Linked DNA regions of Homo sapiens. The protein of the gene in region 1 purifies or fractionates together with the protein of each later gene. This does not show direct contact. Each region holds a gene or a part of one and is shown on either strand. Other genes may lie near its edges.

What was found.
Region 2: the proteins of RELCH (region 1) and TTC4 fractionate together in Homo sapiens (co-fractionation; one large-scale study listed by BioGRID). This does not show direct contact.

Annotation. Positions count from the first base shown.
Region 1 is NC_000018.10:62,259,920-62,263,955, forward strand, and holds part of RELCH (RAB11-binding protein RELCH), read left to right. Parts: intron 1-1,591; coding exon 1,592-1,739; intron 1,740-4,036. UniProt on the Homo sapiens protein: Regulates intracellular cholesterol distribution from recycling endosomes to the trans-Golgi network through interactions with RAB11 and OSBP.
Region 2 is NC_000001.11:54,736,361-54,739,860, reverse strand, and holds part of TTC4 (tetratricopeptide repeat protein 4), read right to left. Parts: intron 2,280-3,500; coding exon 2,197-2,279; intron 1-2,196.

The DNA.
Region 1 (4,036 bases):
TTAAAGACTTAAATGTAAGACATGAAACTACTAAAAGAAAACATTGTTTCAGTACGTTGGTCTGAGCAAAGATTTTTGAAGAAAGATCTCAAAAGCATAGGCAACAAAGCAAAAATAGACAAATGGGATTATATTAAAGTAAAAAGCTTCCGCGCAGCAAAGGAATCAGCAGAGTGAACAAACAGCCTACAGAATGGGAGAAAATATTTGCAAACTCTCCATCCAACAAGGGATTAATAACCAAAATATGTAAGGATTCAAACAACTCAACAGCAAAAAAAAAAAATCCAATTAAGGAATGGGCAAATGATCTGAATAAACACTTCTCAAAAGAAGACATATGGCCAAAAGTTATATGAAGAAGTGTTTAACATCACTAATCATCAGGTAAATGCAAATCTAAACCAAAATGAAGTATCATGTCACCCCAGTTGAAATGACTATTATTAAAAAGACAAAAAAAAAAAAAAAGATGCTGGTCAAGGTGTGGAGAAAGGGGAACCTTCGTACACTGTTGGTAGGAATGTAAATTAGTACAGCCACTATGGAAAACAGTGTGGAAGTTCCTCACAAAACTAAAAACAGAAATACCTGTAATCCACCAATCCCACCACTGGGTATATATCTAAAAGAAAGGAAGTCAGTATATTGAAAAGATATATACTTTCAAGGACTTACATGTTGAGTTTCAAGCACTCACATATTTCTTACAGCACTATTCATAATAGTCAGGATATAGAATCAACCTAAGTGTCCATCAGTAGATGAATAGATAAAGAAAATATGGTATATATAAACAATGGAATATTATTCAGCCATTAAAAAAAGAATGCTATCCTGTCGTTTGCTGCAGCAGGTAGCCTAGAGGACATTATGTTAAGTGAAATAAACCAGGCACAGAAAGACAAATATTGAATGTTCTCACTCACATGTGGGAGCTTAAACAGTTGATCTCAAGGAGGTAAAGAATGAAATGGACCAGAAGCTGGGGTCTGGGGGAGTAATGAACAGAAAAATACAGTTAGATAGAAGAAATACATTCTAGTGTTTGATAGCACAGTAGGGTGACCATAGTTAACAATAATGTGTTATATATTTGAAAAATAGCTAGAAGAGAAAATTTGGAATGTTCCTAACACAAAGAAATGATACACGTTCGAGGTGATGCATATCTCAATACCTTGATTCAATCATTACACATTGTATGCCTGTATCAAAATATCTCATGGTACCCCGTAATATGTACAATTATTTATGTATCAATTCTAACAAGAAAAAAGATAAAGTGATTCCTGTCCCTTACTTTAATTTCTTTACCCTGTCTTATAAAATTTCAAAAGATAAGACCTTCTCTAATGAAAAAGTAAAATTACAAAAACTATTCCCTACAAATGGAAATGACTGATGTTTACCCTATAGTTTTCCATGTAAAAGATTCTACCACTCTAGAGTGCCTTACTGCTTGTTTGAGTCCAACATAAAGGTCCTTAAATCTTTGATTTGCCACAGTAAGGAAGAACATCATACATAAATCCAATTAGCAATGTAACTTCAAAAGACTAAAATTAGCTTCCACCTCCTTATGTTTCAGGAAGGAGAACATGGACTGGATGAACACAAACTCCACATGTATCTTTCTGCCTTGCAGTCCTTGATCCCATCTCTCTTTGCATTAGTGCTACAGAATGCACCTTTCTCCAGCAAAGCCAAGCTTCATGGTGAAGTGCCACAGATAGAAGGTACTGAACTTAAATTCTGGAAGAAAAATGTAGAATATTAGCAGCCTAGCTTCCCAAAGAATTGTTTTTTATTAAAAGTCTAAAAATCACTTTATATGACAGCATAATTTTTAAAATGTATTATGTGTGTAGAATCTCATGGTCATAAGATTATACGTATGGTAAACAATATGGCTTCATCTTTTATGGATAAGCCCCATTGTCTTATTTTATAATACTTATACTTTCTTGTTGCTCTTAATCTATAGCCTTTTTATAGCCTTTCTGGGGAGGCTGAAATAAATATTTCCTTCCGTTAATAGATCTGAGTCAACAAAAGATTCTTTTAATAGTTACTAGTGCCAGTATATGAAGCTTGTCATTTCTGCTTTCTTTATATTTTCTTCCCCAACTTTTTAATTTTATTTTTAATAGAGGAAGGTAAATATAATTACTTTTTTCTACTATGTCCTTGATAGAAAGAAATATAAAAGCATCTGTGGCAGAATTTGTGTTTTTCCAAAGAAGAAATGTGACTTACTTTCAGAAGTACATAAAATTGACAGGAGAGGCCAGTATTTTCTTATCTTACTCTCCGAGTAGCTAGTAAATGACCTTTGAAACTTGACAGGCAATTGATAACCCTGTTGCACCTTAACGTCCAGGACAAATGGCTATAGACAAGCTATTGCTATGTATCAGGCACCTTTGCAGCCTTTTCAGAGTTGTGAAATTATCCATGTCTCTTACTGGTGTCTAATGGACAAAGAATTATAACATTGAGAACATCAACAGACAATCTTCTTGAATTTCATTTTTCATGTAAACTGTAGGCTACCTATAATATTTGGAGTATGATGCAGTGTGTCCAAAGATACATGAAGCCACATGATAAAAATAGTGTATACTATTTGGATGTCAGTTTTATTTGGAAAATTGAGAATGAATGGTGTGGAGTTAATTTAACATTTTTAAATTGAGGAGAATGAAAATTCAGACTTTAGATAAGACTTCATAAAGCTCTCCCAGCTGGCCACTTCAGGTTCTACCCCTTTACTCTTACTCATTTAGGCATTTCATCTGCCTAGGGATTTTCCTATCTTTCTAATTCCCTTTTTCTTTTTAGCTTTCTGTATTCGTTTACTATGGCTGCCTTAACAAAGGACCACCAACTGAGTGGCTTAAACAACAGAAATTTATTATCTCACACTTCTGAATTTTAGAAGTCTGAGATCAAGGTGTTGGCAGGGTAGTCTTAGGGAAACTGCGAGGTAAAGGCTGTTCTGGGCTCTCCCCTGGCTTCTGGTGGTTTGCTGGCACTCTTTAGTGTTTCTTGGCTTTTAGATGCATCACCCCAAACCTTGCCTTTATCTTCACGTGGCACACTTTCTGTGTGCTTGTTTCTGTGTCCAGATTTTCCCTTCTTATAAGGACATCGGTTGTGTTGGATAAGCGACTACTTCAGTATGATTTCATCTTGTCTAACTACATCTACAGCAACCCTATTTCCAAATAAGATCCCATTCTGAGATACTATAGGTTAGGACTTAAACATAAAAATTTGGGCGGGGGGCAGTTCAACTCATAATACTTGTTATCATTCTCTCATTTATTTAACAAATGATTCTTAAATGTCATCTATTGCCAAGCATATGCTGGAGATTAGATAGAACAGTATCATCCTGAACATATCCTTCTAATACTTATGGGATTCCCTTCTAACATTTATGTGACCTTTTCTTGTGATTGTCCTTTATTTTTCATTCTTGTTGACTTAGTTTAACTTTCTGACTTTTAACAGTAGCTATAAATGTTAATGTTACTATACCTTCATTTAGGTTATAATGTATTTATTATAAATAAGGATTTATTATATCCTTATTTAGGGTATATCCATATGTCTATATGTCCGTTTATATATACACACACATAAAATTTGGGTTATAATTTGTTATGAATGAAGATTTGTTTTCTCATAAAAATGGTAACCCACACAAATATTTTTAGTACCAATTTATTACACAACATGAACAAATATTTATGTCAGGCATTGTTTTAGACACTTAGGACACAATCATGAATAAAATAGATAAAAATTTCTGCTCATAGAGCTTACATTCTGCTGTGGGAATAAAATCTTTTGAGATTTGTTGGATTTGTTCTCATATCACAGGAATTTCTTGATTTTCCTAAAAATGACTTAATTAGTGTATTTCAATTTTATATTTAAAATTTACAATAAGAAAGTAATTAAATATGAGGAGAAAGGACCTTATTTTCCTTTCAACAGAATATCTAAGTTCCCAAAATGCCAATTT
Region 2 (3,500 bases), on another chromosome or scaffold:
ACCCTGGTGTACACCACAATCAGGATAAAGTTTACGCTCCTTAGCAGGGCATTCAGGCCTTCGTGTATGGCCCTAACTTAGCTTTCTAGCCTCATTTCCTACCACATCCAACCACTCTCTTTACACTAATACATTGGGCTCTTTTAGCTTAAGTGCAAAAGCATCTGCTTTTCTCTGCTTTGCTTTGCTCAAAGCTTAAGGAAAAGTAGTCCAAGAGTCAATTTGCAAATCTGCTGAGGGCTTTCCCTTATAGTCCAGGAACACCTCACAGCTTCTCTGAGACAACTGCCAAATCCAACTTGCTGCCACTGCTAATGACAAAGATGCCCTCCTATAGCAGGACTGCCCTGTGCAGTTTACAACAGCACTTCAACTCCTATCCTGTCATTGGCTCTCAAATACTTGAGAAATGTGTAGGCATGTATTACTCCCATTCCAGAGATGAGGCGGCAGTCCCAGAGAGGCAGCGTGTGCTTGGAGTCACACAGCCAGTAAATGATGATGGGTCTGACTTCAAGAGCCAATGCTTTCTTCATATGACAGTATCAGGAGCCGGGTCACTGGCATGCACTTGATATTCCAGCTACCTGGGAGGGTGAGGCAGGAGGACTGCTTGAACCCAGTTCAAGACCAGCCTGGAGAAGATACCCTGTCTCTATTATAAAAATAATTTAAAAAAAAATTTTAGGGGCTGGGTGTGGTGGCTCACATCTGTAATCTCAGCACTTTCGGAGGCTGAGGTGGGTGGATTGCTTGAGCCCAGGAGTTCAAGACCAGCCTGGCCAACATGGTAAAACCCCATCTCTATTTAAAAAAAAAAAAATTCAAAATAAGAAAAAGCAAACAAAAGAAAGAGCATCAGGAGACATAGGTATAGGTACGATTAGGAAAAGGAAGGCTGGCCGGGTGCAGTGGCTCGCCTGTAATCCCAGCACTTTGGAAGACCGAGGTGAGTGGATCACCTGAGGTCAGGAGTTTGAGACCAGCCTGGACAACATGGTGAAACCCCGTCTCTACTAAAAATACAAAAATTAGCCAGGCATGGTGGCAGGCGCCTGTAATCCCAGCTACTCAGGAAGCTGAGGCAGGAGAATCACTTCAACCTGGGGGGTGAGGTAGAGGTTGCAGTGAGCCAAGATCGCACCACTGCACTCCAGCCTGGGTGACAGAGCGAGATGTCGTCTCAAAAAAAAAAAAAAGGCCATCCTAGCAGCCTTCATGTACAAAAAGCCAGGCAGCTTTTCCCTTCAAAGACCAGTCCTATTTATCTCCCCTGGTCTGGAGTGTTATGGCTGTGGTGCAGTGGGCTATCATCACACTGGAGCCTGTTTGACCAATGGCTGAGTTTTATGGGCCCGGCCAGTCTCCATGGCTGCTGTCTCACACAGCTCTGTGCTCAGGGCAGAAGGGAGGGGAGTATGAGGCAATCAGTCAGCAGCGGAATGAGAACCTGGCTCTACTCCTCGGATGGTGCCTGAGTGATATGGTTTGGCTCTGTATCCCCAACCAAATCTCATCTTGTAGCTCCCATGATTCCCATGTGTTGTGGGAGGGACCCGGTGGGAGATGACTGAATCATGGGGGTATGTCTTGCCTGTGCTGTTCTCGTGATAGCGACTAAGTCTCACGAGATCTGATGCTTTGAAAAATGGGAGTTTTTGACCGGGAGTGGTGGCTCATGCCTGTAATCCCAGCACTTTGGGAGGCCAAGGCAGGTGGATTACCTGAGGTCAGGAGTTCAAGACCAGCCTGGCCAACATGGTGAAACCCCGTCTCTACTAAAAATACAAAAGTTAGCCGGGCGTGGTGGCAGGTGCCTATAATCCCAACTACTCAGGAGGCTGAGGCAGGAGAATTGCTTGAACCTGGGAGGTGGAGGTTGCAGTGAGCCGAGATCACACCATTGCACTCCAGCCTGGGCGACAAGAGCAAAACTCCATCTCAAAAAAAAAGGGAGTTTTCCTGCACAAGCTCTCTCTTTTTGCCTTCCGCCATCCACGTAAGAGGTGACTTGCTCCTCCTTGCCTTCTGCCATGATTGTGAGGCATCCCCAGCCACGTGGAACTGTGAGTTCTCCACTAAACCTCTTTTCTTTATAAACTGACCAGTCTCAGGTATGTCTTTATCAGCAGTGTGAAAATGGACTAATACACTGAGCATCTTCCCCAATCTACTCAGCGCCATGAGATGACTCACCTCTGGTGCTGTAGAACCTGTAGCAAGGTGCTCTTGGCAGGCACCCGGTATAGTTCTGCCCTGTCCTCATCCTCAAAGTAGACCTGCAAGATTAACAGAAGGGCAAGAGTCAGAGATAAAGGCTTCGGCAGCCTTAGTTGAGGCTAAGCCCAGGGAAAATTAAAAAGATGGCAACGGTTAGTAGTTGAATGCCTCCTTTATATGGTTGTGTAGCTGGGTGCTTTGCATTTAGTACCCCCCCGCCATGCCACTGTAAAAGAGGCTATTATCAGTTCCATCTTCCAAAGACAGAATCAAGGCTCAGAGAAGAACAACAACTTGCCAACATTACCCTGCTGGTAAACAGAAGAATCAAGACTCAAGGCCAGGCCTATGTAGCCCTCCTTTCCCTAACAAATCAGACTAAAGCCATCAGGTATGTGGAGGAGAAAGCTATGGTGGCTCAGAGAAGGAAAGAGCCTGAAGAAGGAGAGAAGGATGTCTGTGCAGGGTGTCAAAGCCCAAGCAGGGTGAGGAAGACGCCTGCACAGGAAGCTCCCGGGGGTGTCAGAGCAGGACCAGTGAAGAAGAGCATCCATGCTGGGGGCCAGCAGGCCTGAGCAGGGGAAGAAGTGCTCCCTTGTAAGATGGCTGTCCAAGGTGGGGTGTCAGAGGCCATGTGGGGTGAAAAGGGTATCCATGCATGGGGACAAGTAATATGGAGTTTACAGGCCCAACTAGGGTGAGGAGGGTGACCACTCATGGCAGGGGGTGGCCTGCTGTAGGGTGTCAGAGCCCAAGCAGGATGAGGAGGATGTCCATGTAGGGTCGTTGAGCAGTGTGGGATGTCAGAGTCTGTGCGGGGTGAGAAAGACGCCCACGCTGGGGCAGCAGCGTAACATGTGGAGTCAAGAGTCCAAGTAGGGTGAGGAAGGCTCCACATAGGAGAGGGGCCAGTGGTGATGACAGGAGGGGAACTGATCAAACAAATAACTATATTAAGAATAATAAAGTCAGGCCAGGCATGGTGGCTTATGCCTGTAATCTGAACACTTGGGAGGCTGAGGCAGGTGGATCACTTGAGTCCAGGAATTCAAGACCAGCCTGGGCAACATGGTGAAACCTCATCTCTACTAAAAATACAAAAATTAGTTGGGCACGGTGGCAAACGCCTGTGGTCCCAGCTACTTGGGAGACTGAGGTGGGAGGATTGTTTGAGCCCAGGAGGTTGATCTTGGCAGTGAGCCAAGATCTCCCTACCGCACTCCAGCCTGGGCAACACAGCTAGACTCTGTCTCAAAAAAACAAAAACAAAAAAAGAACAA